Linked DNA regions of Homo sapiens: all the other regions are reported to be linked to region 7. Evidence: microRNA targets listed by miRTarBase, many of them from high-throughput screens and not tested one by one. Region 7 holds a microRNA gene; each other region holds the end of a gene's coding sequence. Distances are between the middles of the regions.
The links. The annotated mature microRNA hsa-miR-4725-3p reads UGGGGAAGGCGUCAGUGUCGGG and lies in region 7 at 2,022-2,043, opposite strand. An mRNA with a match to its seed (bases 2 to 7 or 8) in the 3' UTR can be bound and repressed. Matches are read on the target gene's strand: a 7mer-m8 pairs with bases 2 to 8, a 7mer-A1 pairs with bases 2 to 7 and ends in A, and an 8mer does both.

Region 1: the mRNA of TET3 is a reported target of hsa-miR-4725-3p. Seed matches in the 3' UTR shown: 8mer at 2,208-2,215 and 7mer-A1 at 1,638-1,644.
Region 2: miRTarBase lists KIF6 as a target of hsa-miR-4725-3p. Seed matches in the 3' UTR shown: 7mer-m8 at 2,075-2,081 and 7mer-m8 at 1,796-1,802.
Region 3: miRTarBase lists CCDC137 as a target of hsa-miR-4725-3p. Seed matches in the 3' UTR shown: 8mer at 2,077-2,084.
Region 4: miRTarBase lists PADI1 as a target of hsa-miR-4725-3p. Seed matches in the 3' UTR shown: 7mer-m8 at 2,211-2,217.
Region 5: the mRNA of NTN1 is a reported target of hsa-miR-4725-3p. Seed matches in the 3' UTR shown: 8mer at 2,512-2,519, 8mer at 1,124-1,131 and 7mer-m8 at 466-472.
Region 6: miRTarBase lists SDK1 as a target of hsa-miR-4725-3p. Seed matches in the 3' UTR shown: 7mer-m8 at 2,221-2,227, 7mer-m8 at 1,184-1,190 and 7mer-m8 at 881-887.

The regions. Positions count from the first base shown.
Region 1 is chr2:74,101,585-74,104,584 of GRCh38, reverse strand. It overlaps TET3 (tet methylcytosine dioxygenase 3), which reads right to left. Exons shown (of 12, transcript NM_001287491.2): 12 at 1-3,000. The coding sequence ends at 2,409. Among named protein-coding and RNA genes, the nearest start is that of BOLA3, 45 kb to the left of the region's middle.
Region 2 is chr6:39,333,175-39,337,551 of GRCh38, forward strand. It overlaps KIF6 (kinesin family member 6), which reads right to left. Exons shown (of 23, transcript NM_145027.6): 23 at 1-3,374. The coding sequence ends at 3,358. The region is part of intron 1 of LOC105375047 (a long non-coding RNA gene); the gene reads left to right. Among named protein-coding and RNA genes, the nearest start is that of KCNK16, 13 kb to the left of the region's middle. RefSeq lists an enhancer at 2,989-3,068.
Region 3 is chr17:81,671,775-81,676,151 of GRCh38, forward strand. It overlaps CCDC137 (coiled-coil domain containing 137), which reads left to right. Exons shown (of 6, transcript NM_199287.3): 4 at 1-52; 5 at 302-381; 6 at 721-2,125. The coding sequence ends at 930. Among named protein-coding and RNA genes, the nearest start is that of CCDC137, 7.2 kb to the left of the region's middle.
Region 4 is chr1:17,243,274-17,247,650 of GRCh38, forward strand. It overlaps PADI1 (peptidyl arginine deiminase 1), which reads left to right. Exons shown (of 16, transcript NM_013358.3): 16 at 737-2,734. The coding sequence ends at 970. Among named protein-coding and RNA genes, the nearest start is that of PADI3, 3.6 kb to the right of the region's middle.
Region 5 is chr17:9,239,819-9,244,163 of GRCh38, reverse strand. NTN1 (netrin 1) reads right to left here. Exons shown (of 7, transcript NM_004822.3): 7 at 164-4,345. The coding sequence ends at 4,196. Among named protein-coding and RNA genes, the nearest start is that of NTN1, 220 kb to the right of the region's middle. RefSeq lists a silencer at 3,732-4,181.
Region 6 is chr7:4,263,997-4,268,373 of GRCh38, reverse strand. It overlaps SDK1 (sidekick cell adhesion molecule 1), which reads right to left. Exons shown (of 45, transcript NM_152744.4): 45 at 1-3,250. The coding sequence ends at 2,990. Among named protein-coding and RNA genes, the nearest start is that of FOXK1, 420 kb to the left of the region's middle. RefSeq lists an enhancer at 3,495-4,377.
Region 7 is chr17:31,572,992-31,577,368 of GRCh38, reverse strand. MIR4725 (microRNA 4725) reads right to left here and starts at 2,100; the gene lies at 2,011-2,100. MIR365BHG (MIR365B and MIR4725 host gene) reads right to left here. Exons shown (of 3, transcript NR_186556.1): 3 at 1,710-1,858. It overlaps MIR365B (microRNA 365b), which reads right to left and starts at 1,958; the gene lies at 1,848-1,958. RefSeq lists an enhancer at 3,384-4,003.

The sequences.
Region 1 (3,000 bases), not on the chromosome of region 7:
ATTCTCCAAATGTTTCGTAAAATATTGTATTTCTTGCTTAAGATCATTTAAAATGAAGTTTTCAAGGCACCCCCGCATCTACCTAAGCACGGAGTCAAATGAGACCTGCATAAAAGTACTGATGCGATAAGCAAAATAGCATTTAAAGGACCCAATTTTTCCTCAAAACTAGAAAATTAGCATGCTCATTAAAGACTCTGCTTCCTTTAGCTTGTCAAACTGAAGGTCAGAGGTTTTCCTATAAATCTGAGTTCTGAATAATTCTAAGTCCTGATAAGCTCTTGGGTATTTATTTCAAAAGCAATAATATTTCATTTTTTTGTCCTGTAAAATAAATGCAACTTTACAGAATATGGTAAAAGTGGAGGATAGACAAAGCACATTAAATATTCGGCTACTATTTACAATTTCTCCCACAATTACATGTTAAAACATACTTTTTTTTTCAAGTTGCTGTTTAAATCTAGGCAAAAGTGCTTAAAAAAATCTTTCACTATTTACAGTTAAAACCAGACCACATAAATGCTCAGGACATCTTACAACGACCCTCCGCCAGTGCTTCCAAACAGATACAGTAAACACCCAGCAGGCCGGTTCTCAGCTCTTACTCAAGGCACCCGGAAGCTCAGGAACTTGCCTATAGCGGTCATCTGATTGTTAAACATGATTCATGAAGACCCATATCTGAATACAACTGCTCAGTAAATACCTGTTCATCTCAGGGCTTGGTGGTCATCCACCGTGTGGCCACATTCCCCTCTGTGTGTCCTGATGAAGCCCCCCATTCACCACACACACATCCACATGGCTAGCATGAGATCATTTCTGCTAATATCACAAGAAAAACCAACACTCCAACAAAGTTTGACTTGGTGATGATGAGTGTTGCTCCCATCAGGCCCAACCTCTCTCGACAACGTCACAAAAATTAAGCACCACATTCTCATTTCAAAGAACCGAATGAATGCACCAGAATTTCAGAACAGCTATATTAAAGTGGATGAAGAGGGGAGAAAGGAAAAAAAGAAAATGATCAAATGGAGAAATGGCACCAATTAGGGAGGAAAATTATAGCAACCTGTTGAAAATGTTTGACTCTTGCACTTTAAAATTGTTAAGTGTAGGCCCCCGAACCCAATGACAGCATGGAGGAAGCAGGCTCAGGTGTGAGGCATGCACCATTGTCCAATGTGGAAATTCAGGGATCAGGATAGATGCATTAACTGTTGTTACACTGGTCTGCTGAGCTCCTGTAGGATGTGACCTGCCCAAGAGTCAAGAAAGTCCCAGCACAACACTACAGCACCAGGCTCCGCACAGCACCATGCACAGAGCACCACTGGCTTTTCACAGCTTGGGTTCAACTTCCTGTTTTTAAAGATACAGTAGCCCTTTTTCAGTATCAGCATAGACTTTGGGGGCATTTTTTAAAAAACTGCCACTAAGACAAATTCCTTCAGCTCAGCATGCATTGGCTTGGCAACATGGTGGGCACGGCCCCTAAGAACCTCGCACTCCAGCTCCAGCGTGAGGTGCTGCCTAGTGAACCATGACATCGTGTGACTCCATAAATAACGGACAGAGGATTCAGTGTGGAGACTAGCAAGCTTGAAGCCATCTACTTCCAACCTGGTTTCTGGGGAAAGCTATGCCAGCATCTCGTGGGGCTGGCCTGGGGTGCATCTGCCCTTCGACTCCAAGCCGGGGACTGGAAAAGGGACCCCAGATGGTTTTCTGCAGACTCTCCCATCCTATCAGAGAGGACAGAAGCTGTCCTGAGGCTCCCTTCCCCAAAGGGAAGGGGTGTATGTCGGGAGGGATGAACTGGGTGGCTACCGTCCGCGCTTGGCTCTCGAGGGGCAGATGGCTGAGGACCTCGCCAGCGCCCGAGGGGCTTGGCTCGCCAGACCCAGCGAGACTGGGCGGGGGAGCACTACTGGCCTTTCCTGCCCATCCTTTACCATTACTATTGTCGCTTTTAAAAAATCCAATAAATACACATTTTAAATGGAATTTAAAACTACTCCTTTGTGAAAGGATACTATAAACTTTCTTTCCATTATTGTGATATACAAGGATAGAGTTTTAAAAACAAAGAGAAAATAAAAATAAAAACCCCCCAGACAAGGGGGGGGGACAACTTGGAGATATAAATATTAAGATCACGGAAAAATCACCCGACAGCCGTAGTTTCTTCTTCAAAGTGCTGGGGAAGTGGGGGTAAGGGAGGGGCGGGTCAGTTCTGAGGTTTGGACCATAAATACATATATATGATATGCGCATCTATATATGTATATAGAGATAAAAAGACTTCTGCACCCCCAACCCGCCCCCAGGTATGAGGGCAAAAGCACCACAGAGACAGCTCGGGCCAGGCCCGACGCTGAGGTACGCTGGCTCCCTGGCACCTAGATCCAGCGGCTGTAGGGGCCAGTGACCTTCGTGTAGGCATAGGAGGACACGGTGACCGCCGAGTCTGTGGGCACAGCCAGTGCCTGCCGGGTGGGGACGACCCCCTTCTTCTCTTTCTGCTGGGGCTCAGCAACCACAGTGCCCCCCCACTTGCGCTTCTTCCCGTAGAGCTTGGCCTCCTGCTGGCCCAGGCCCAGCCGGGCAGCCTCCTCCTGCCGTGCCCGTGCCCTCTCCGCCAGCTGCTTCATCTTGGCTTCCCAGAGGGCCAGCCCGTGGTTGGGCTGGTTGAGGTTCTTGTGCTGGTAGAAGACCAGCGAGATGCGGGTGGGGTGGCAGCGGTTGGGCTTCTTAAGCGGCGTGGTGGCGTGCAGCTCCCGCCGGGCACACTCGATGAGGATGGAGCCGTGGGCTGGGGCCACGGCCACGCCGCCGATGTTCTCGTCCAGGAAGTTGTGTTCACTGTCCGACCACAGCTCCTCCTCTTCCTCCTCCGCACCACCACCGCCCTTCTCCTCCTTCACCGCTCCCTTGCTGGGGGGCTCCTCAGCCGGCCCCTCCTCCAGGCTGAAGGGGTCCCACAGCTTCTCC
Region 2 (4,377 bases), not on the chromosome of region 7:
GATGCTCTCAGTGCCTTTCCACAGGCTGCATGGAGAGACAATGAACTCTGCACTGAGAAATCCTAGATCCAGTCATATACTGTCTCTGGGTTCCAATTTCTGTGCCAGTCTGCTATTGCTACAATTAATGCTATATAACAAACCACTCTAAACCTCAGTGGTTTATGACAAGCAGCATATATTCTCATGCCAATAGGTCTTTGGGTGAGCCATAGTTCAGCTGATCTGGGCTGGGCTTGCCTGGGAGGCTCTGCTCCAGGCTGTAGACTGGGCTCAGGTCTGCTCTCTGGATGTTCCAGGCTGAAGGGGCAGCAGCTACCCATGGCATGTTCATCCCAAGAGAGATCACTGGAGCAAGAGGCAAGCTCAACCATGAGAGCACAATTCAAGCCTCTGCCTGGATCAGGTTTGCCAACACCACATTAGTCAAAGTGGGCCATGACAAAGCTTTGGATGTGTAATTCTATACTGGTGGTGAAGAATTAAAATGATGTATTCAGTATACCACAATTTCTCTATCTGCTTTCTAAAACTCCTTTTTAGCAAGATCTGGGCAAGCTACATTTTAACTTCCCTCCTCCAACCTCCGTCCACCCTACTTCTTGTCAAGGGATTGGTAGAGCCAGTTGAATTCTAGCAGGGACTGGGCTGGAGTCACTGGCTAGGCTGCTTTCCAGAAAATGTTTTTGAAAATCCCACATTTTGGCCTAGAGTGAACTCAGATACTTCTTGTCATCCGTGGCTCCACTGATCCCAGGTGGATTGCTGGAAAGTCTTTTCAAAACATTGCATCAATTTCTCCCATTTGCAGAGGCCAGTGAACTCTGGGAAGGTGCACTGCTGTCAAGCATGTGTCCATATCAAAGGCTGGGCTTCCATTAGGGGATGTTCGGAGCAAAAGGCCCCTTGGCCAGTTGCTGCACACACTTTGCATATGCTCTGGACACCAGTGGCCCCAGATCCCATGTTGTGTGTTTTTCTGTCTTCATTTCCTTTCCTGTCTTAGTGATTGCCCCAGGAGGCTGGTTCACACCCCGCATGGGGCCATGCCACACATCTCTGTCAGTAAGGCCTTTGGATCCAGGAGATGATGTCTCAGTGGGAGATCTAATGTTGAAAGACTCTGGCAGGGTATGTGGCTCATGCCTGCAATCCCAGCACTTTGGGAGGCCAAGGCGGGAGCATCGCTTAAGGCCAGGAATTTGAGACCATCCTGAGCCACACAGTGAGACCCTGTCTCTACAAAAAATTTAAAACGAGCTAGGTGTGGTGGTGCATGCCTGTAGTTCCAGCTACTTTGGAGGCTGAGGTGAGAGGATCGCTTGAGCCCAGGAGTTGGAGGCTGAGTATGGCTTGAGCCCAGGAGTTGGAGGCTGACTAGTGAGGTATGGTCGCACCACTGCACCCCAGCCTGGCTGACAGAGACCCCCCCCATCTCAAAAAATAAATAAAAGAAAGTAAAAATAAAAGAAAATAAAAGTTAGTAGACTCTACCCAGCTCTAGAGGGCTGAGGGCACTAAGGCATGCCAAGAATACTGCTGCTGCTACATAGGGGACTGGGGCAAATGCCATGCCATCTTCAGGGCTCTTGAGAGTGTGTGTGTGTATGTGTGTGTGTGTGTGCAGTTACATGTGTGTTCCATGGACTCTTGGGGAGGCTTCTAGAATCAGAATTTGGTCTTCCTCTGGTTCTACAGACTTTACAGAGGGCTTACTATGTTCCATTGAACTGTGAGGGCCAGGAGTGGACCAGAGATGCTGGCCCCTGTCCCGATGGGATTCAGTCAGAGCCTGGGGGAAGTCAGAGTGACACCAGCCTGAGAAACACATCTGGGTTCTGGCTCGTCTACTCATGAACTGAAGGACCGTTTACTGAACAGCGACTCTGTGCTTGGGACACAGCAATGAGCAAGACAAACAGGTCCCTGTTGCATTGGAGCTCTTAGTATTATGGGGGGTTGCAGGTATTTCAAAAATAGGCAAGTTCGGAAGGATAACATGTCAGATAGTGATGCAGAAAAAATGGTAATGGGATAGGGGATAACTAGGGGGTGACTCGAGATGGAGTGGTCAGGGGAAGCCCCCTGAAGAGGGGACATTTGTCAGTGGCATAGAACAGCAAGCTGAATCTCCCCTTCACTCTGGCCTTCTAATTATATAAAATAGGGGTGTGGATTAGAGGAGCTCGATGGGCCTGCCTAGCTTAGAAATGTAATGGTTTAATCTTCTCCTGCATGATCCTGTTACCCAGTCCTAAAAAACGAAAAAGAAAATCAAGCCAATTATACTATATTACCACTCTGCTCCCCTCCAGGGTCATCAGGTCCTGTATTTATAGGACAGAGACACCAGGAGCAGTGGACCAGCACTTTTATCCAGTTAGCTTCATTTCCAGGTGCCACTCCTGCTCACCCTCCGCTGCCCCTCCCTGGCTGCAGCTGGGTTGGAACCCCCTGGCCCAGGGGGCAGTTCTTCAAGAACCTCCTTGAGGGCTGCCCACCTTCCCTTGGATCTGTCATGGAGAGGGCCCATGGAGACAAGACCCCCAGGCAGCTATGTTTTTCCCTGTGGAAGTGGGGAGTGTCAGCCCAAATCCTCCCAAGTGGCTGGGTGAAGGTTGTGAGGCCCAAGGTACCCACACTGCCCTCTCTCAAGCTCTCAGCAGAGCCCCTGGGAGCTGCCCACTGTTCTCTGGGTGCTATGATGTCCTTAGACCCTGCAGGGCAGATGGCTCCCTGGAGACACAGCTGTTCAGGCACTGCCTCCAGGTCATCCTGGCCAAGAGGCTGATGGTGAAAGATGTGGTCTGGGAGATCAGGATTGGCCTTCAGGATGCCCTGCATTCCACTGCCTTGCCTGTGGCTGGGACATCCTGCCTGGACCTGTCATGGCCATTTCTGGGCTTCCAAACCAGAGCACGGGCCAAGGGAGAGAGCTGGCAAATCGTTAAAAATAAAAATATTCCCCCCACATTCCACTGGTGTGAGCATCCTCTGACATTATATTTTGATGGTGCTATTTCACATTCTCAAAAGCTTATAAAGATCTACACAAAACGTCACTACAACAGTGAGCTGAAGCCTTCACCCTGCCCCTAGCACTCTGGCCTTGCCTGGCCCTGCCAGCAGCTCCAGCAACCACAGGAAGGATGTTGTGGTCAGCCCCAGCCCCAGCCTCTCGGTGGCCTCCAGGTCAGCATCCTTAAAGAAACACAGTCCCCTCCATGGGAATCAAAGTCACTAGTTGCTCCCAGCAGCCCATAGTTCACTTCTGAAGCCAGAGCAAGTGAGGGGCGCTGCCTTCATCTGTGCTTCATTCTTGCTGGCATAATTCATGGATGGATATTTCCTGGAAATTCAATTGCTTCCCAAACCTGAAAGGGAGACAGGATGCTTTTGGTTAGGCTGTGCATGCAGACACTGACTTTTCCCAGGATTGAATCGGGGGGAGGGGAGGCCACCAGCCACTCCCCCTGGGTCTTGGGCACTGCATCTGTGTCTTGCCTCCCAGGAGCTGCATTTATACCCCAAGCTCTGAAGGAAGAGGCCCCCTTTGCCCTTTGCAGAAGCTCCATCTCCCTAGGCTGAGACTGACGCCTGTTTTCCTACCCCACCGTTTTCTTTCCTTTTCTTTCTTTCTTTTTTTTGATGGAGTCTCGCTCTGTCACCGAGGCTGGAGTCTTGTCTTTTCCTTCCTTCCTTTCTTCTGTCCTTCCTTCCCTTCCTTCCCTTTCTTCCCTTTCTTCCCTTTCTCTTCTTTCTTTCTTTTTCTTTCTCTTTCTTCTCTTTCATTCTTTCTCTCTTTCTCTCCCCTTCTTTCCTTCCTTTCTTCCCTCCCTCCCTCCCTTCCTTCCTTTCTTTTCCTTCCTTCCTTTTTCTTTCTTTCTTTCTTTCTCTTTCCTTTCTTTCCTTCTTTCCTTTCTTTCTTCTTTCTTCTCTTTCTTTCTTTCTTTCCTCCTTCCTTCCTTCCTTTCTCTTTCTTTTCTTTCTTTCCTTCCTTCTTTCTTTCTTTCTTTCTTTCTTTCTTTCTTTCTTTCTTTCTTTCTTTCTTTCTTTCTTTCTTTTTCTTTCTTTTCTTTCCCTCCCTCCCTCCAGCCTCCCCTCCCTTCCCCTCTTCCTTCCTTCCTTCCTTCTTTCTTTTTCTTTCTTTTCTTTCTGGACGGAGTCTTGCTCTGTTACCCAGGCTGGAGTGCAGTGGCACAATCTCGGCTCACTGCAACCTCTGCCTCCGGGGTTCAAGTGATTCTCCTGCCTCAGCCTCCCAAGTATCTGGAATTACAGGCACCCACCACCACGTCTGGCTAATTTTTGTATTTTTACTAGAGATGGGGTTTCACCATGTTGTCCAGGCTGGTCTCAAATTCCTGAGCTTAAGTG
Region 3 (4,377 bases), 50 Mb from region 7:
CGGAAAAAGGAGGAAAAGGCGGCAGACAGGCTGGAGCAGGAGTTGCTCCGAGGTAGCTCTTCCCAAAGCGATGGTGTCAGCAGTGGTCCGGGTGGGGCCTGGGCGCAGGCCTTCTGTTCCCCACCAGCCCTGGCTGCACTGGGCACCTGTGGTTTCCCCTGGGGTCCACAGCCATTAGACCACTGGATGAGTTGGTGTTCTGTCCCAGCCCTATGGGAGGGAGGTGGGCGGGTGGTGGCTCTGGGTGTCAGGGGTGCAGTGGCTGTGGGCAGCAGTCCTCAGTTGTATTCTGCTCCTCCAGACACGGTGAAGTTTGGTGAGGTTGTCCTGCAGCCCCCAGAGCTGACTGCCAGGCCCCAGAGGAGCGTAAGCAAGGACCAGGTAAGTGGGGCACGGGGACAACTTGAGTTTGTCCCCCAGTGCTGCCAGGGAACAGAAGCCTTGGACAGGCTGGACACGGTGGGTCACACCTGTAATCCCAGCACATTGGGAGGCCAAGGCAGGCGGATTGCTTGAGCCCAGGAGTTGATACCAGCCTGGACAACATAGCGAGATCCTGTGTCAAGAAAAAAAAAAACCCTCAGCCAACGTGTGCGCTGTCTGGTGTGTGGCCTGAGAGTGCAGTGTTCTCGCTGGCGGGAGAGCTGTTGAAGCTGTGAGGCTTTCTGTTGCATCCCCTCCTTTCCCAGCCTGTGCCTCACCCTCCCCTCTCTCCCTCAGCCTGGCAGGAGATCGCAGATGCTGCGGATGCTTCTGAGCCCCGGTGGTGTGTCCCAGCCTCTGACCGCCTCCCTGGCCCGCCAGCGGATTGTGGAGGAGGAGAGAGAGCGGGCCGTGCAGGCCTACAGAGCGTTGAAGCAGCGGCAGCAGCAGCTGCACGGGGAGCGACCCCACCTCACTTCCCGGAAGAAGCCAGAGCCGCAGCTGTGATGGAGAGACACCCGGGGCCTGGCCACGCTCTGGGGCAACTGGCACCAGGAGCTGCTACACCTGGGTAGGAGAGAGGCAGGCCATGCCAGCAGTGTGGGGTGAGGCCTCCAGCTACTTGTTCACACGTTGGGCACTAGTGGGTCCACATCTTGCAGGGGGTGAGTGCCCGATGGACTAGGGCCAAGGCCTGGTTGACAGACGGCCCGTGGGGCCCGGTGTCACTCACAGCTCCATCTCTTTGTTTTGAACGTCCATTCTGAGTCTCAGCCCAGGTGGACCTTAGGAAGGGCTGGATCCCTGTCCCTGAACACCAAATACCGAGACAGCTGATGAGGCTGGCTCAGTGTGTGACGGAGGCCCCCGGGAGTCAGCAGAGCCGAGCGTACAGTGCACATCAGGCAGAGCAGGCCACGGGCAGGGACGACGCATCGGGACAGGGCTCTGCAGGGGACCGTGACTACAGGCCAGCTGTGAGTGGTCCCCTACAGAGGCTGCCCACCCAAGGTTTGGTTGGGGTGAAACATGATGACAACACATACACTTAAGAAGGTGGGAACCGGGGGCCGGGCGCGGTGGCTCACACCTGTAATGCCAGCACTTTGGGCAGCTGAGGCGAGTGGATCACCTGAGGTCAGGAGTTCGAACCAGCCTGGCCAACATGGTGAAACTGCATCTCTACTAAAAATACACGAAGAAAAAAAAAACAGTGGGAACAGAGTTGTCACCTACCTAACAGGGCTCTGAGAGAGCCGGGAGGCCCAAAGTGGCTGGAAGAAGGTAAAGGAAAAATCCTGTCTTGGGCTCAAGGTCACAGAGTGGGGCCCAGGGGGAGTTCCTGCTGAGGGCAGGGCCTTGCCAGGCTTCAGTCTCCAGTGCCAAAGGAGGAAATGCCCAGGCTGTCAGCATTTCCAGATGAGAGCAGAAGGGAGAAGCTTAAACCCAAGTCACACATCCAGCAATGGAGTCCGACAGCCCAGCACCATCTGGGAACTGAGAAGCACCTCTGCCCGGCCCCCACACCGTGTGGAAAGTGAGGAGCACCTCTGCCTGGCCGCCACCCCGTCTGGCAAGTGAGGAGCGCCTCTGCCCGGCCGCTGTGCAACCTTCCAAGTGTGAAGTGACAGCCTTGTGTGTGATGTTTTCTGCCTTCCCCAAGTTTGCACTTTCGACATTAAAGTTTACTTTTTAGTTAAAAGTTTTAAATTGGAGAATATATATTTAAAGTCAGGGCTGTTTTCCTCTTATGGGCATGTTTCCCACCTTGTGATGGACCTGGCGGCCCCAGCCCTCGCGTTGGGATGTTGTTTTTGCAGCAGCCAGAACTCAGCCCCAGATCACAAGCAGCAGCTGGAAGGGGGTGGCCTTTCCCTGGGAAAGGGCTGGGACGGCAGCGGGTGGCACTCCCACTCGCTCAATGCCTTTGGTTTTGGGTGTCAGATCGGCCCGTGTATGGCTAAGCAAAGGGATCCCACAGGGCTGGGAAAGCGCTCATGCTCTCCACTGCATCCATGATTCTCAGGTTTTAGCTGCTGGAAGGGAAACCCCTGGTGGTTTTTAGGGCCTCTTTGTTGCCCAGGCTGGGGTGCAGTGGCATAAGCACACTGCAGCAAGTTGTTGGGCTCAGGCAATCCTCCCACCTCAGCCTCCCAAGTACTTGGGACAACAGGTGCTCACCAACACACCCAAATAATTTTTTGTGCTTTTTGTATAGATGGGGTTTCGCCACGTTGCGCAGGCTGGTGTCGAACTTATGGACTCAAGGGATCCGCCTGCTTTGGCCTCCCAAAGTGCTGGGGTTACAGGCGTGAGCCACTGTACTTGGCATTTTTTTTTTTTTTCTGAGGCAGGGTCTTGCTGTCACCTTGGCAGGAGTGCAGTGGCACGCTGGTCTCCAAGTCTTGGGCTCAAGATTAGCCTGCCTTGGCTTCCCTCAGTGCTGGGGTTCCAGGAGAGACCAGCTCACCCCTCCTACTTTTTTTTTTTTTGAGATGGAGTTTTGCTTTCGTTGCCCAGGCTGGAGTGCAATGGCACAATCTTGGCTCACCACAACCTCTGCCTCCCAGGTTCAAGCGATTCTCCTGTCTCAGCCTCCCAAGTAGCTGGGATTACAGGCATGCACTACCATGCCTGGCTAATTTGGTATTTTTTAGTAGACACGGGGTTTCTCCATGTTGGTCAGGCTGGTCTCAAACTCTTGACCTCAGGTGAGCCGCCCGCCTCTGCCTCCCAAAGTGCCGTCCTGCTTTTCTTACTTATCCTTTACTTCTGGAATCTTCAGGAGGAGGTGATGTGGGCATGTCAGGGTCAATGTTTAAGAGGCGAAGGCCATGGATGGACCTCCCTGGGCCTTCCGCTCTCCATGGGGCAGTGCTGTTCTCTCCATATAAAGGGAAAACTGAATTTGCACAAAATCGGGGTGCTGACAAAACCAGTGATCCCAGATGGGTCACCTACTTGTACACACAGGTCTCGCAGCACCCTAGTTGTCAACTTTCCTACAAAGAATTTTCCCAGACTAGCCAGATTTTCTCCCAGCCAACCTATCACACATTTATTGATGTGATTTTTTTTGAAGAAAAAAATTAATGTTATAATTTCACATACCGTATAATGCTATCCTTTGATTAGCGTTTAGTTTGATGGGAACTCCAAACTGTTAAAGAAAATTCAGGCCAGCTGTGGTGGCACCATGCCTGTGGTCCCAGCTACTCGGGACGCTGAAATGGGAGGTTCACTCAAACCTGAGAGGTCAAGGCCGCCCCACCGTCTGGGAAGTGAGGAGTACCTCTGCCTGGCCGCTGCACCGTCTGGGCCTGTGAGCTGTGATTGTGCCTCTGCACTCCAGCCTGGGCTGTAACAGAGCAAGACCCCCATCTCTAAAACAGAAAAGAAAAAAAATTCCTATCCAGGTGCTACATCTGCGCTGAGAAGAGTCCACGAGCAGAGACGACTCTGAGAACAGTGGTGTCCTCAGCAGCATCAATTTCCCCAGACTCAGGAGAGAATTGGGCTCTGGCATGTGCACTGAGGGGGGTCCAGCATGCCTGGCCCCATGTGGGCGGCAAGCCACCCGGGTGCCAAGGCAAGAGACTGAGGACACGAGCTGTTCCAGTATAATAAAATATAAGAATAGTTATACCAGACATAGATCTTAGATATGATTATATATGAATCATGAATCATTAGTTTATAGCAATTACTCTTTATTCCAATATTATAATAATCCTCGCTCTATAATCATAACCTAGGAAAAGCTAGGCCATACAGAGATAGGAGCTGAGGGGACATAGTGAGTGAGGTGTGACCAGAAGACAAGAGTGCGAGCCTTCTGTTATGCCCAGACAGGGCCACCAGAGGGCTCCTTGGTCTAGCGGTAACGCCAGCATCTGGGAAGACGCCTGTTGACAAGCGGACCGTGGTCTAGCGGTAGCGTTAGTGTCAAGGAAA
Region 4 (4,377 bases), not on the chromosome of region 7:
GGGAAGGAGAGGTGCCCCCAGAGTTAAACTCAAGTGTCCCCAAAGGCTTTTTCAGCCCTTTCCCCCAACTCCTCAGTCCCACAGGTGGCCAGATAAAAAGCATGGATTTTGGCACCAGCCAGATCCAAGTCCAAATGTCAGTCTCATCATTCTCTGGCTGTATGATTATGTGACTTAACCTGTCTGAGCCACAGCTTCAGAGGGAGGCTGTGGCATTTAGTGATGATATATCTGGCACATAAAAGATGCTCAATAAATGCTAACAATGATCAGGGCTGCCAAAGACAGTTAAGCAAGCTGTGCACAGCAAAAGCACACCACACTTTGGAAGACATCCACACCACAGACCTTGTAGGTGTGTATATTTGTTGTACAAGTTTCTGGCAGATGACACGAAAATCTCTTGTTCTAACAAAGTTGCTATAATATGACAATTTTCTCATAGATGAAAGAAAGAGTGGGAGAAGTTTTTTTTTGTTTTTTGTTTTTGTTTTTTAATGTACAAAATTCCTGGTAGTCCTGGCTGTTATTCAACCTCATTTCCAACCCTGAATCTTTTTCTCCTCTGCTTTCATAGGCCCTAACTCTTGAGCAAACTCCAGTCCTAGAGCCCTTTCTAGGCTGTGGCTATGGCCAACCCATTCCCCAGGGCCTGTCTCATTCTGGCAAGGAAGGGGTGCCAGAAGCACAGCACTTATAGCCAGACAGCCTCCCTCTTGCCTTTTCTCTTTTGCAGGTTAACATGGTGGTCTTAGGCAAGTACCTGGGCATCCCCAAGCCCTACGGGCCCATCATCAATGGCCGCTGCTGCCTGGAGGAGAAGGTGCAGTCCCTGCTGGAGCCTCTGGGCCTGCACTGCATCTTCATTGATGACTACTTGTCCTACCACGAGCTGCAGGGGGAGATCCACTGTGGCACCAACGTGCGCAGGAAGCCCTTTCCCTTCAAATGGTGGAACATGGTGCCCTGAGCCTGCCCCCACCCGCCATCCTCTCTGCCCTCTTGCTAGGGAACCCTGCCAGGGTGAAGGCAAGGAACAACCACCTGGCCTCCATTCTCTTGGGGGAGTCTTGGCACTTTGCAAACATCCTGGCCACCATGGGCACCAGGACACAGGGATGGATACCACCTACCCTCGCCTCTGGAATGGCCTACCCAACCCGAGAAGAATGCACCTCATTCTTCCCTGGCCTCTTTCCCACCCACAGCCCCCAGAGGCTCTAGATCAACAATGTTAGCATGTTCCAGAATGGCTGTGGGAGGCCTAGGGAGATGGGCCCCACTTAGAATTGCTCCCCCTTCATTCTGATGCCTCCCTGGGGAACAAGGATAATGACTTTGCATCTGCACCTGGAACGGGGCCTGGGGGACCTGGGGTCTGGTGTGCCAGGCACCAGGCTGCCTCTGCTCTTGGAAAACTAGGAAAGGGGATCAGAAACATCCTCTCCCCGCTCTAGGTTTCTTCTCCCAAAGGGGACCCAAGGCTGTGACACTTACCTCCACCCCCATCCAGCACCCTTCAGCTGTGTGTGGACAAACAAGGACAGAAAAACCCAGTGTCCAAGGGCCAATTTAAATAGAAAAAAAGACAACAAAATTTTAATAGCTGACTCCGACCTCAGAAGAGTGATTGCTACCTTTCTGGAAAGACTTTAATTACCAGAGCTGGCTTCTCCCAGCTCAGAAATGCTGAGAAGCCAACGTGAGGCCTGAGGACACACAAAGGATGACGGGGCAGGAGGGGATGAGGTCAGGGTAGCAGAGTGTGTGACGACGGATTTGGGGGCCTAGAGGTGTCCGTGGTTCCTGGGCTGGGATTTTGGACTCTGGATTTGAAGGGAGCTGGAGCTTCCAGATGTAGCAGGGGTAGGGGGCCAGATGTTAGAAGAGGGTGTGTGTGTTGGGAGGAAATTAGGTTATCTCTGAAGGTGGAGTTTAATTTCCTTTAATAGTCTTTAATTATTCCCCTTCATTCTGCAGGCAGTGGGAGGGGAAGGCTTGCCCGGTCTCTCTCAGCAACCCAGGGACCCTGCACATAGCTTAGGTTTCATCCCTGAATAAACCGCTGTGCAGGCCCATGTCCCCTCCCACAGTAGGGAAGACAGCTGCCACGGGAGGTTAATAGCCCGGAGTGAGGTCACTGAGACATGCACAGGCAGGCTGGTTCAGCTGGGCTGCAGGGCACGGGCAGGAGGAAGCCAGCCTACCCTCTTCCCCCACTGCCAGTGAGGCCATTGTAGGGCAGTTGGCCCTAGGGCTTCGGTCCATCTAGGTTTTCAGTGGCCCCTGCTGAGACCTCACACTGAGCCAACTACTGTCACTGTTTTAACCAACAAAAGCTAGCCTGGAACTGCTATGGTTAAAGTGGGTGAGCGGGAACCTGAAAATCCCCTTCTGGAAGGTTCTACAGAACTCTATTTGCAAGCTCCTGCTTTAACCTGAGCGTCCTCTGCTCAGGATCATACCCCAGCCTGCACTGAGTCAAGAAGGAGAAGGAGGCTCTGAAGGGGCCGGGGGTGTGAGCTGGGGTTGGGACTCCCCTGAGAAAGAGCTGTGGGTAGGAAGGGAGTGAGCATTGCAGAGATAGGGCTGGGGGTCGGGGCCACACTGAGTGTGGGAAGCTCTGGAGTTGCTGCTGGGCCATCGAGGGGCCCTGGTGTTGGCTCTGAGAATGTTCTGGGTGACCAGTCACCTACTTTCTGATCAATAAAAATGTCGACATGCATTTCTTACAGGGCTGTCTACCCAGCCTGTTTGTTGGGTTGGGGAGGAGGGGAGGAAAGCGGAGAAGACTGCTTCCAGTTCCATCCACTATGAAGCTGCTTGGCTCAATTTCTGCTGCCACAGGCGGCCCCTGCTCAGCTAGGAGAGCCTCACAGTGCCACGGCCAGTGCCACGGCCAGTGCCAGGCAGGCTGATTCAGCAGGATGGCTGGCACATTGCCTCTTGCTCTGGGGCTGATGGCCCTGCTAAGATGGAGATCAGATCAGGGGAGGGATGGGTCCTGCCTCTTCATCTCTTCTCTCTTCCTTCAGCATCCCCTCCATCTCTCAGGGACAACAGGTCGGGGAGGCAGCCCGGGCCCTATTAACAGAGGTGAGAGTTCCCCAGCAGGGCTGGTTCCCAGGGCCACAGGCCACTACAGTTCCCTTTCTGGTTTTCGTTTTGTTTTGTTTTCTTTTCTTTTGTTTGAGACCGAGTCTTGCTCTGTCACCCAAGCTGGAGTGCAGTGGTGCTATCACAGCTCATTATAGCCTTGAATTCTTGTGCTCAAGCGATCCTCCCACCTCAGCCTCCTGAGTAGCTAGGAATACAGGCACAGGCCACCATGCCCAGCTAATTGCTAATTTATTTTTTACGGAGCTGGGGTTTTGCTATGTTACCCAGGCTGGTCTCAAACTCCTGGGCTCAAGCGATCCTCCCATCTTGGCCTCCCAAAGTGCTGGGATTACAGGTGTGAGCTACTGTGCCTGGCCCAATTCCCTTCCATTTTTGTGTCTGAAGCTTCTAAGTTACCTGGCTTCAGTGGTCTGATTTTGGATGCCTGAAATCATCACCCTCTCATCCTACACATTTGCTGCTGCCTCAAATTACACCGTTTGATACTCACTCACTTTATTTTAGCTTTTGTTGTGGAGTAAGAGGGCAAAAAGTTGCTGCCTATTAGTCATTGACACTTTAGTCTGAATTAACCACAAACCTGTTTCTAAAAGTTGGTATTAACAGAGGAGAAGTGAAGGCATGAGTCTCCTTCCAAAGACATATACAGTTCTCCGAGAAAGAGGCAGGTAGTGGGCCAGCACCCCAGGGAAAGCCCCTACTTTCTGCATCTATTCCCCATCTGTGCTCACAAGAAGGCTAGGGAGACTAAGGCTTCCTCCTGAGCTCGAACTCTTACCCAGGGCTCCCAAGGCTGACTCAGCCATCAAGCCATTCCACAGCTGAAAAAAGTGAAGCTGTCCCTTGACCCAGAAGCCCAGCAGTTCTCCTTGAAAAGAACATCTTTCCCAAAAACTGAGACATGGGAATGACAATCTCAGGGTCCTGTTGAGGCCCTTGAACTGGTGCAGATGTCCCAGCTGGAGATGCTGGGGAGCGGGTCCTGGTCCCCATCCTGTCTCAGGCTGTCAGCACTGCCAGGGAGAAGGGAGGAAACCTCTATTCAGCACCTCCTGAGCCTCCGCCAGGCAGGGTGCGTCTTCACTATTATCTCCGCCAGGGCCAGTGATTAGCTGCATTTTCTACAGATGAGGAAACCGAGTCTCCAAGAGGGGGGACACTGACACCCAAGGCCCTATAGTGGGTGCACGGTGGAGCCTGCCTCTGAACCCAAGACTTCTCTCCCCAGAGCCCTTGCTCCTGCTCTTCCAGGAGCCT
Region 5 (4,345 bases), 22 Mb from region 7:
TCTGTCTCTGAGGCTCTGGGTAAAACCCAGGCTCTGACTTGCAGGGGAGTTCTTCGGCCTGAAGCCATATTCCTCAAACTCCCCGAAAACTCCATCCTTCCCCTGCCTCCCCACACGCCCACCTCCCACAGCCCAGGCCACCAATCAAGACTGCGAGACGGCATAGTGTACAAGAGTTTATTTAATGATATCTGAATTTAGTTCTATCATGTGGGGCCCACATTACAAGTTCCATCTGGGTCCATTACAACTCTAACCAACCCCCCACCCCCCCCCAAAAAAAAGGAAAGAAAGAAAATCCACAACTTTTTCCATGTCATTAAATATATTCATATATAATAACCATAATATATTAGTATGCATTGGAAAGGGACATTGACCCAAACAATACGTCATGGTCACAACTAAACATTTACAATTCTGAGTGAACAGAAATCCAAAACACAGGAGGGGGCAGAGGGAGGAGGGGAAGTGCATTTGGGAGGAGGGAATGGGAAGAAACGTCCAATGACAGGAGTGGGACTGGTTTGGCTTTTGGCAAGGGGCGAGACCCCACAAGTACACATTTTGATCCCCCCCGGTGTGCCATGGCCCACAGGAATGTCTTGTCCACGGACCATGGCCAGTGGCCCCATCAATGGGTCTAGTCTGTCCACTCTGGGCTTCAAGGGGACTTCCTTTAAGTGTTGACAGCCTAAGCGTCTTTCACTTTCCTGAAGGCAGGAACCATTCCCCAGTCCCTTAGGGTCTCTTCTTGAGTTCAGTCTCATTCCAACCTGGGACAACTCCAAGAAAGTAAGTCCGTACCCCTCTCCAGCATGCCGCGACTGAGGCAGAGTTCCAGGGCCTTGGAGCAGCTCCCAGCCTCCCTGGGCTGTGACCCTCCCTCCCTGGGTTGTGACCCCAGGTGTCCCTCCCTCCCACATAGAGGCCCCTGGGGATGCTGCCTCCTGCCCTGCTTTCCAAGGACAGAAGCAGTGGGCAGAGACCACAGCCAGCAGGTGAATCCCGGGGACAGCCCTATGTCCTCCCCCGCAAATCTTCGGCATTACTGCGTGTCCGTAAAGCAGGCACTCAGCTGTCAGGGGCACCAGACCACCCAGCTGGTAAGAAAAAGGACAACTGGGGAAGCTGTTTCAAAAACAAAGACTAATCTGGTATGTTTTTCTTCAAACAAACACCTACATAGCACAATTCTGGTTAATACACTCTTCAAAATCAAAATCTAGTTCCGTTTTACATCCCTTCCTAACTGTACAAACCGGGACACCTCAATTCCCATTTCCCTCTGCTCCTTGGAGTGGGGCACCGGAGTGGAGGAGGGGTGCTTTCCCAAGGATGGTGCTCACCGCAGAGGCCGGGGCTGCAGTCGGGAGTGGTGGGCTGGGTCCTGGCTGGGTGTGTGGATAGGAAAGGCAGCTCGTGACGACCGTGCAATCCCAACAGTGACCTGGCTGCTAGCATGGTGGATCTGGTCACCCTGACGCATTCCCCAAGGGCCAGACCACCGGGCGGACAGCCTGTGCCCTGCGGGGTGCTGAGCCGAAGGGAGGGGCAGGACACTGGCTGAATTTTCCGCAAGATGCCTTGTTGCTTGGCGTGTCGCCAGCTCCGTTGCTGAGGTGGCCTCAGAGACCACCACAAATGCAAGCCCCTCACAGGACACCCGTGAGACCCAGACCCAGGGTGGGATATCGTGGGGCTGCCACAGCCCTTCTGGGCAGGGTGAAGAAACCACACTGGCATAGACAGAAATAGGACAACCGCCCCAGCAGCGTAGTGCCTTGTGATGCTGATGGCGCCCAGCACACCACACTGGGCATCCGAGGGGCGCTGACAGCTTGGAGAGGGGCCCTGTCTTCTAGCCTTGGGCTGGATTCAGGGAAGCCAAATGCCCCTTCCCAGGGCAGGTCTGTCTGCTCCCTGCCCCTGAGGCACCTCTGCCAGTCTCTCCTGGAGTCTCTCCAACCACCCTGAGGCAGCCAAAACACCTTTCTAAAAACACCTTTCTACCACCTCTTCGGAGCATCCAAGGCCTGCCTTCCTGGAACCTGGAGCTGCCATCTGGCAAGTCCGTCCCTGCATCCCGCACCACTTTGCTGCCTCCTCTGAAGATGTGATTGTCCCCATGCCCTACCCCACCCCGGGCTCCTGTTCTCCAGCCCAGATGCCAGTGTCCTCAAGAGGCAGTAACCAGGGCCAGGGGCTCGGTGGCCACTCCCCCAAGAGCACCCTCCCAGCCTGCACAGGGATTGGGCGGGTAGGCTGCAGAGCTGGAGTGCAGTGAGGGCCAGCGTGGCCCCTGGTCAGAAAGTCGGGCTCTGGAGTTTGAGCCCCAGTCCTGCCACCAATTTGCAGCATGACCTTGGGCACGTGTACTCCAGTCTCCTTGCTGGTGATAATGAGTCCCTGTCCCACAGGGTTGTCATGAGTACACACTGGGAGCATGTGGGTAAAGTGCCTGGCACACAGCAGGTGCTCAATAAATGGCAGCCGTGATGCGGGTAAATGTGGGGAAGGCGGAGGGAAGCCAGACCACCGGGGGCCGAGCTTCATACTTGGTATGACCCTTTTGAGCAGCCAAACTCTGGCCGGGAAAGTGAAACCAATTTCCTGACTGTGAGGGGAGCCAGGCCTCTTAATTCAGTGCGCCGGGTGTGAGGATGTGGGCCAGAGGCCCGGGCAGTGCAGAGAGCCCAGGAAGGCAGGGAGCCAGGAGGCCCCAGGGCACAGGAATGGACCCTGTGTGAGGAGGTCAGAACAAAAGGGGCTGCCTGCTTGAGGACCGTGTCTCTAGGAGATTTTGGAAGGAGGGCTGGGGCACAGTGGAGGGCACGGGCAGACTCCACAAAGACCGTCTGGAAAGGCACGGTCAAGGTGTGGCCCAGGCCAGACCCAAGACAGCTGTAGGGGGCAGGCCGGCAGCCTCTGTGCCTTCCCTTGGAGAAGCCAGCATGGCCTCCTTGGCCCCCAGGAACCTGGTCATTCCTGTGCCCCTGCCCACCCATGGCTCAGGCACTCTGGTACTTCACTGAGCCAGCAAACCCCATCCCAGCTCAAACAAGCCCCCGGCCCCAAGCCAGGCCCAAGTGCCTTCGCAGCCTGCAGACTCCAAGCCCGTTCAGGCCCTTTCCAGCTGTTGACATTGCTGAGGGGCCTTGCGGGAGCTGATGTCATTTACATAAATAGTGTCACTGCCGTAAACCCAGCCAGTGCCCCTCCCCCTCCCCCTGGAAAACGTCATAAAAAGGGCTGGTTCCAAGTTTCCAAAAGGAAACTCTCTGGGAGGTTTTGCGTTTGCGATGCCTCCTCCAACAGGCAGCTCCAGCATGAGGCGGTGACCACCCGGCTTGGGCTTCTCAGGGGTGTCCCTGGGCCCACTGCCTTCCGGATGGGCCAGCCCCACGCTGGGCAGGGGCAGGGGCAGGGGCAGAGACAGGCAGCAGCAGGGGCTTCCTCTCCTCTCTCCACAGGTGAACCACTCACCGACCCCAAGCCCCCACCCAGTAGGACCCACTCAGCAGGTAGCAGTGGAGACAGAGGCCGCCTGGGGCATGCTGGCTGGACAGGAGCTGTCCACTCCCCAAATGCTGCCAGGCCCCTTCAGATGGAGGAGTCCAGGCTGTGACAGCCAGGTGGCCCGCGGGGAACTGCTAGAAGGGGCCGGGGAGAAAGGGGGGGATCCCGTCGGCTGCGTGTCGGGTGGTGGTTTGGTGGGTGCTCCGCGCCCCGCCCACACTACGGGCTTGAGAATTCACAGTTCTCCTCCCGTCCACGTCTCCGCGCCATCCACGCCCCGCGCCTGGGGCCCCAGTTGTGCGATTCTGCGCCCGCCCCCGGGCCCCAGGGCAGGCTGCCCCCAGCCCCTCCACGGCGGCCGCGCCCAGGCCCAGGGAAGCGCGTCTCTGCTCTGGAAGGAGCCCCGTGAGGTAGCTACGTCTCGTCATTTCTCCAGGGCCCGGCCGGCGGCGCACCCCGCCCCGCGTGCACGCGGCTCCCGCCCAGAGCGCGCAGGGTGGGGGTAGGGGGAGGGGCCGCCGAGGGTCCCGCCCCCCGCGCCGTGCGGCCCCGCCCCCTCCCTCCCCCCACCTGGGAAAGCCCTCGCGGGCCAAGTCCGCGGCGGCCGGGCCAAGGCGCCCGCTCTCGCTCGGCCCCGCCCTGGCGCCCGCCCGCCCGCCCGCCCGCTGCCTCGGCGCTAGGCCTTCTTGCACTTGCCCTTCTTCTCACGCTGCTGGAACTTGCGCAGCCGCCGCGCCCACGTGTCCCGCCACTGGATCACCAGGCTGCTTTTATCGGCCACGATGCCGCTCTGGTCCGGAGAGTCCTCCGCGTTGCCCAGCAGCAG
Region 6 (4,377 bases), not on the chromosome of region 7:
CGTGCAGGAGGCCGAGGGGGTGTGGCCTGGCAGCTCTCTCTGGGCTCACCTGCCTGGAATCTCTGCCCTGGCACCCCAGGAGGAGGGAGCTCTGCACACCCATCCCTGTGGCTCAGACGGAGCCTCCTGGCCACTCCGTGACCACATCCTTGCAGGGTGGGGCCGAAGCAATCTGAAATGAGCCACGTTGGGGGTGGGTGGGGAGACTCAGCCACTGCTGTCATGAGGCATCCGCAAGGCATGACTTTCAGCACGGCAGGAGAGAGCGGGAGCACATTCCATCTAGCCTGGCTTAGAGACATTTTGTTTGTCCTCTTTTTAAAACCGAGATTAAAATCCAACCTCCATCTTCCTAGGCTGTGATTTTCTTTTCCTTCCCTGAAGATAAGGAGTTAGGAACTGTTGCTTCTCAAATGCCGCATTGCTCTGGGAGGCCAAAATCTACCTGGAAACATCCAGCTCTGTTCCTTTGCACAGGTGGTTCTCATGGGACAGAGTCCCTCCGAGGCATGGGCGCTGTCCTAAGCACAGTCCAGCAGCAGCCAGGAGGCCGGCGTAGCCTCGGACAGGCCGCTCCGTACAGATCAAGGTTTACTAAGAGTGGAGGGGAGACGGAAAACATGAGCTTGAAACAGAAGTGTCATGATGTTGTATCGAAAACCCGAGAGCAACAAACATATCTCGAATCTGCTCATCCTCAACCTAAGACGTCTCAACACTCTCCCTGGCATGTAAAGCCACATCCTCATGGCTGCAGAGAGCAGTCATCAGAGTGCACAGAAAGCAGCGCTGGCCATGGTCTCCATTTATCGCTTCTCTTCCAAGAAATTCCAGTGCTCACATCCTGGCTTCCCGCCCACTTCGCCCTCTCCGGGGCCGAGGGGAAGGAGGTGGCACTGTCCACTGTGGTGAGTCTCATCCGGGGAACTGTGGGTTGCGATTCTCATGCAGAAGTGGCTTTGGGCAGAGCATCTAGGATTTTTGGTTTAGAATATTTCCCCCTCCACTCAGAAAAAGGAGGAGAAAAGGAAGAAGGAATAGGGGAGAGAGGAAGGGAGGGAGGGAAAGAAGGGAGGGAAGGAAGGAGGAAAGAGAGGAAGGAAGGGAGGGAAGGAGGGAGGGAGGGAGGAAAGAAGAGAGGAAGGGAGGAAGGAAGGAAAGGAGGGGTAAAGGAAAGGAAGGAGGGGAAGGAAGGGAGGAGAGAAAAAAGGAAACTTGCCATACCCTCTAATTTTGGAAAGACTGAAAAGGGGTTTTCCAGCCTATACAAAACTCTCCTTGGTCTCCTGGGGCCATACTCAGCAACGCTGACAGCACAGAATCCAGGCAATATCCACACCCTCTGCCCATGGAGGTGCACAAAACATCTAGGTAAGCAGGGGCCACACTTTCTGCATGTGGCCAGGAGACTGGCTCCTGGGTGGCACTGGTCAGATACTGCTCAGTTGTCCCCTACCCTCAGGTCACTGGGGGAACGGCACCTGCCCGTTTGCCGTGCACTGGGGGGCACTGACAGGGTGGTCTTGAGTCTTGTGTGTGTCACGCTGCTGCTGGTGAGGGGGCACTTACAGGGACCCGGGGCACACACGCCAGTGGGCACCAGCAGTGCTCCCGTTCCATCCAGACCCGGGACCCGGGCTGAGGGGTGGACCATGGCAGCCCAGTCGTCTGTTGCAAAGATGACGTGAGGGGCTGGAGGCATGGCCATCTCTGAGCTGTTAAGTTTTCCAAAGTAGTTCATACTCTTTTCATCTAGCTGAAAAATTTAAACCAAACAATGACAATTTTAAATAAAAAAAAGAAACATTTCCAAAAAACCTGTTAAGGCTAAAAGCTGGCCTCGGACTGGGAGAGGGGGCAGCAGCAGCGCCAGTGGTGGAGAAGCGGTGGCTGCTGCGAGCAGCCAGCAGAAGCCAGGACAGAGGGAGGGGACGGCCTGGTGTGCACGAGGCGAGTCGGGAGCGTGTGTTCTCAGAGCTGTTTTGCTTTATTTGCAGACACTGTTGCTTTTCATCTTTCCCATGTACAAAGCTGAACAATTAATAAAAAGGCACCTGGAGACAGCAAAGACGCATTCATTTCATGTGACATAGTTTAAAAAAAGATAAAAAGATTTTAAAAATACTCTGGTTAACAATGCACGCTTCCTACGTAACAAGCAATTCTGGAGACGCCGTCCCGTGTCCTCGTGTCCCGCGGAGTTGACCGTGTGCTGTGTTCGGGGAAGGAGAGGGCCAGCGTGGTGGCTTCCAGCCCTAAGAGGCTTCCCTCTCCCTCGCTGTCAGGTGAGAAGGAAGGGGGAAAGACAGGCAGAAAAGCCTGAGGACCGCACCACTGCAGTGACACAGACAGTGACGGCTGAGCCACACCTTAGCATCCCTGCCTGGCCGTCAGGAACCTGAAAGCCGACTCCTTGACTAGACACTGCCAAGTGAGAACATTTCAGAAACAGATGAAGTTGGGACAAAACGCACTGAGCCCAGGGAAAAACGTTTGCTCTTCAAACCCCAGGAGCCGCCGAGGATGTCCTGCGTTGAGAAGGGTGTGAGCCGCTGGTTCTCTGGAAGAGGAGGTAGAAAGAGACGGGGGCCGGCCGGGGCAGCTCTGAGATCTCACCTGACCCTCCACTCCCTCTCCCCGCTTGACCCTTCCTAGTTGGTCTTGAAGACGGAGAAACCCAGGGCTGGGGAGGTCTGAGGTCCTCCCAGGCCCCGGAGGTGCCAAGCCATTGCACCAGTGAAATACACCTTCTCTTAAAAAGAAAAGAAAAAGAAACAAACCTGCTTCCTGCAGCGAAGTTACAAAAAGCCGTTTAAAAAAACCTTCCTAATTGAAATCTAGTGTCCACAAGTAGGTAAAATCATCACTTATCAGATTTTTTTCTTTTTAAACAAAAACTTCAGCTCAGTTATTGGAGTTGATTGTCTTAACAAAAATAGACTCCGGAAAGTTGCCTCCGTTCCGCCCTGAGGGAGGCGCGGCGCTTTGCTCACACGAAGGAGGAGAAGCCGGTGAGCGGAGTTCGCGCGCCGGGGCCAGCGGGGGTGTAGACGCCGCCCGCGCTCTGCGTGGTGATGACCGGGTGCAGCTGCGCGCCCGCCTCGGAGCCCGCCACCGCCTCGTACCTGTGCGGCGCAGGTGCGCGGCCCTGGGCCCTGCGCTTCCATGAGTTGTAGTAGGTGGGGTCGCTCATGTAGTGGTTCACGAAGGAGTGCTTGGGCAGCGCGTCCTCGTAGTCAGAGTCCGTGGCCTGCGGGGAGCGGGAGAGAAGGTGTGAGTGCAGGGCAGGGCGCAGGGCCCGGAGCGTGCTGGGCAGGAGGCCTGGCGGTGGGGGCACCTCCCCAGGGGCGTGTGTCGCGGTCTCCAGCCCTCTCCCCACCCCAACCCAATGCCAGGCCCTCCCACCCTCCACACAGGAGAGCAGGCAGCCCCCAGGTCCCCCTCCCTGATCCAGGTGTGACCGACACTGCATTTTCTCAGCTGCATCCAGCCCCTCACTCTGTACCAGGTTTCCGAGAAGAGCTGGGCCTCCACCCAGGAGAGGTCTATGCAGCCTCCCCACTCAGGAGCAATCTACATGGTCTCCTCACCCCAGGAGAGGTCTACACGGCCTCCCTCACTCAGGAGAGGTCTACACGGCCTTCCTTACCCCAGGAGAGGTCCACACCGCCTCCCCACTCAGGAGAGATCTACGCAGCCTCCCTCACTCAGGAGAGGTCTACACGGCCTTCCTTACCCCAGGAGAGGTCCACACGGCTTCCCTCACTCAGGAGAGGTCCACGCGGCCTCCCCACTCAGGAGAGGTCCACGCGGCCTCCCTCACTCAGGAGAGGTCCACGCGGCCTCCCTCACTCAGGAGAGGTCCACGCGGCCTCCCTCACTCAGGAGAGGTCCACGCGGCCTCCCTCACTCAGGAGAGGTCCACGCGGCCTTCCTTACCCCAGGAGAGGTCCACGCGGCCTTCCTTACCCCAGGAGAGGTCCACACGGCCTCCCTCACTCAGGAGAGATCTACACGGCCTCCTCACTCAGGAGAGATCTACGCGGCCTCCCTCACTCAGGAGAGGTCTACACGGCCTCCCCACTCAGGAGAGGTCTACGCGGCCTCCCCACTCAGGAGAGGTCTACGCGGCCTCCCCACTCAGGAGAGGTCTACGCGGCCTCCCCCACTCAGGAGAGGTCTACGCGGCCTCCCCCACTCAGGAGAGTTCTACGCGGCCACCCTCACTCAGGAGAGGTCTACGCGGCCTCCCCACTCAGGAGAGGTCTACGCGGCCTCCCCCACTCAGGAGAGGTCTACGCGGCCTCCCCCACTCAGGAGAGGTCTACGCGGCCTCCCCACTCAGGAGAGGTCTACGCGGCCTCCCTCACTCAGGAG
Region 7 (4,377 bases):
GAGTTTGAGACCCAGCCTGGCCAACATGGTGAAACCTCATCTCTACTGAAAATACAAAAATTAGCCGGGCATGGTGGTGGGTGCCTGTAAATCCCAGCTACTTGGGAGGCTGAGGTGGGAGGATCCCTTGAGTCCTGGAGGTCAAGGCTATAGTGAGCTGTGATGAAGCTACTGCACTCCAGGCTGGGTAACAGAGTGAGACTGTGTCTCAAAAAAATAAAAAATAAAAAAATAGGTCTCAGAAAAATCGGATTCAGCCGAGCGCAGTGGCTCATGCCTGTAATCCCAGCACTTTGGGAGGCCGAGGCAGGTGGATCATGAGGTCAGGTGTTCGAGACCAGCCTGGCCAACACAGTGAAACCCCGTCTCTACTAAAAATACAAAAAATTAGCTGGGCATAGTGGCAGACGCCTGTAATCCCAGCTACTTGGGAGGTTGAGGCAGGAGAATCGTTTGACCTGGGATGTGGAGGTTGCAGTGAGCTGAGATCGCGCCACTGCACTCCAGCCCAGACGACAGTGCAAGACTCCATCTCAAAACAAATAAAAATAATAATAATAATTTAAAAAAAGGTATTTCTGCTTCTCGACAATCCCCCAGGACCTCCAAAAGCCTTGGCTGGTCAAAATAGAGTCATGTGTCACTTAACAACGGGGATCCATCCTGAGAAAGGCATTGTTAGGTGATTTTGTTATTGTGCCAACCTCACAGAGTGTGCTTACATAAACCTAGATGGTGAATAGCCTGCTGCACACCTAGGCTAGGTGGGGGAGCCCATTGCTCCTAGGCTACACATCTGTACAGCACGTTCCTATCCTGAATGCTGTAGACAATTAGAACACAATGGCAAGCGTTTGTGTACCTAACCAGAAAAGGCACAGTAAAAACAGTGTTATAATCTTATGAGACCACTGTCCTACATGCGGTCCCTCGTTGACCAAAACATCGTTAGGCAGTGCATGACTGTATCTGCAGGGTGGGGCTGGATAGGGCAGGGGTAGGGAGACCTGCTGAGAATGGAGGAGATCCATGAAGTGAAATAAGGATGGAGGACTTTCAGTCAAGGAAAAGCAAGCTCCAGGGTCACAGTAGAGGGGGAAAGACCCTCAATTCACTGTTCTATTTTCAAAATGGCTAGTTCACTGGGTCTCAGACAGACAGTGGATTCTGAGGCTCCTTCTATTTTATTTTATTTATTTTTTGAGACAAGGTCTCACTGTGTTGCCCAGGCTGGAGTGCAGTGGTGCAATCTTGGCTCACTGCAACCTGCAACTCCTGGGCTCAAGCAATTCTCATGCCTCAGCCTCCCGAGTAGCTGGGACTACAGGCACACACCACCACACCCGGCTAACTTTTGTATTTTTAGCAGAGATGGGGTTCTGCCATGTTGGCCAGGCTGCCTTCTATTTTAAAATACAATGCAAGTTCCTGCGCAGATAGATGCCTCCTCTACTCCTGCCTCAACTTCTCAGGAAAGGTTGGGGGGCATCTTGTCCAGCCCAACTCTGTTGCCTCTAACATCACTGACCCGGAAGATGACCTTCCTTGGGCACTGCACGTGCAGCTAGGCTCTTCCAGGCCTTCACTGCACACAAACCAGGGAGTTCCTGCACCCTCCTGGGCTCCAACCTGCACAGGAATATCTTGATGTCCAGCCCTCCCGACCCTCAGCCACTCCAATCCTCCACCAGAAGAGAAGATGCTAAAAATGCACGCAAACAAAATTGTTTTAATAATCAGCAAATCCCCATTCACTCTTATTTTGGACGTACATTCCAATCTGACCCCAGGAAGTCCCGGTCCTCCCAGAAGGGCCAGGTGGGTGAGAGGCAGGTTGCTGGCCGCTGCCCGATGCACACTGCAAGAACAATAAGGATTTTTAGGGGCATTATGACTGAGTCAGAAAACACAGCTGCCCCTGAAAGTCCCTCATTTTTCTTGCTGTCCTTGAACACTCTCCAGGTGAGGAAGCAGTCGTCTGCCACGCCCAGATGAGCCGAGGTGAAGCTGGTGTTCCCTCACCCGACACTGACGCCTTCCCCACAGCCCATGGAAAGCTCCCTGGTGGGTGGGAAGGCTGCAGGGTCTCCAGAGAGACACAATTTTCTCCGATGCCGGGCCCAGCTGCGGCCAGCCTCGCCGCCCTCCCAAGGCATACCCAGGAATGACCTGGGTTCCACCTAAAGCCAACTCAGAACCCAGCGCCTTCTGCCTGCAGGAAACTGCAGACCAGCATCCTGGTGGAATCCCAATGTGGAGAGCAGCCCCCAAAACTCGGGAACGTGGCAAGAACTATACTATAGTCTGTAGCCCCTGTGTTCACAGGAGGGGCGTGGACCATCTCAGAGAGACAATGATGGTCTCAGGCCTGGCGTGACACATGAACACAAGACAGCCAGCCTCCAACCTTCTTGTAACCAGGCCTGAGGCCAGGCCTGATTCAGGCAAAGAGAAGAAAACACCAGGAAGTGCCCAGAAGAGCAACCCAGGCCTGAAAACCCGGGAGAAGAGCTGCCCCGACTCTCTCCAGCCCATCTTAAAGAACGGCACACAGACAGGAGATTCCAACAGGAATGGGCACGGGAACTCCGGTTCCGCTTCTCTCCAGCAGTCGCGGCCTTGGTTACTCTGCCTGTAAAATGGGCCTGGAAGGAGCTAAGCTCCCACCACCCTCTCTCCCATTTCAAAGGGAAAGCCAAAGAGGAAATGAGACTTTCAGCTCTGTCACAGAAAGCAAAGGGGCTGGAAGAGGCTGCAACCTGTGAGAAACAGCACGCCCTGGGGTGCTGCTGAATGGATCTCAGGCCCGCCCACCAATTCTCGGCCATATCCCACCCTGCCCTTAGCAAAAGAGCAACAGCTTCACATTGGCCTGAGTGGGAAGGCAGGTCCTCCCAATACCCTTCTATGAAAACGGCCTACAATGGGCAACAAAGACAAGTGTGAAGACCTCTGGAATGTCCTAGGTGGTTTCTGGGTTCAAATCAACAAGCCCACAGGCTCTGCTGGGAAGCACAGGCTGAAAGAAACCAAGGTTGGGTGAAGGAGATGGTGAGACAGTGGCCAAAAAGAAGGGAAGAGACTGGTGGCCAATTTGTTTTTTGTATGGGAGGATAAAAAACAAGAGCTTCCAGAATCAGAGACTCGTAGAGGATTCTCCTTAATGGGACAATCCCTTCTGTCCCGAGGCCCAGGTGAGCCTCCAGGGCAGTAGAGGGTCAACCCCAGCGTCAGGGCATCAGGGCCCAGACCAGGAAGGCCCCTAGGGAATGAGGTCCTGCATGTGCCTCCCACCTGTGGAATGTCACCCAGCAACAGGAAACGTGTCTCCTGAGGCCAGGCCACTTTGCCCAAGGCCCCGGCACAGCTGGAATCTGTCCAGCCTGGCACTGCACCTGCTCTTTGGGGGCCCCACTGTCCATGCAGGAACCTGGCCTGTCAGGACACAGGTTGCCACCGCTGTGGTGAAAACACATCCCCACAAAAGACAGCCAGCTGCTGGCACCACTACCTGCTAACTTGCTGTATGACCTGACCCTGTGTAAATTACTCGGCTTCCCAGCCTCAGCTCTCTTATCTGTAATAGGAATAATAAGCCCACCTGGAAGGGCAATGTAAGGATCGAAAGAAAGCAAAGTGTGTAGCAGGCTCCTAACAAAAGTGGATCCCCTCAGACCCCAAGGGCAGGGGCTGGGCCATAGCGAATTCTTCCCCTCTGGGAAGGGGGCTGGGTCAGGGTGCCAGCCCGTGCCTCGCTGCACCCTGGGCACTGACACTGCATCTTCTCCCCAACACTCCACGCTCCTTCCAGTTCAGACTGTGAGGAAGTGTGCCTGCTATCCCGATTGCCAGCTCCAGCCTCAGCCCTCTCAAACTGACATTCTGGCACCTGTCATCCACCCGGAGCTTTCTGTCCTAACCAAGATCACAGACATATTCTCCACCAACAAAGCAGAACTGAAGCAGTCCCCCCACACTAGGTTCTGCATCATCTGAACCACTGAACAGCACACCTGCATCACTGTGCTGAGCTGCTCCCGCTGCCTGGCACACCTTACCCCACGTGGTGCCGTGCAATAAGCAGGCAAGACCTAGCTCACCACTCACTAGCCTCGGGCCAGCAACTTAACCCCGAGTGCTTTTGTCTGTTCCTGTGTGAGTCTGGGGTTACTACCTATTTCAGGGGTTGTCTGGAGGACTGAATGGGTTCATTCATGGAAAAGGCTTAGAACTGTGCCTGGCACAAAGCGTTCAATCAAGATTAGCTATTATTACCATTCCTGCTTTGTTCTTCAAGACTCAGCTCACCTCTTCTGGGTGACCTTCCTTGACCCCAGACTCTCCCTGGGTTACAGCCCCTTCCTTCTCCCCATTCCA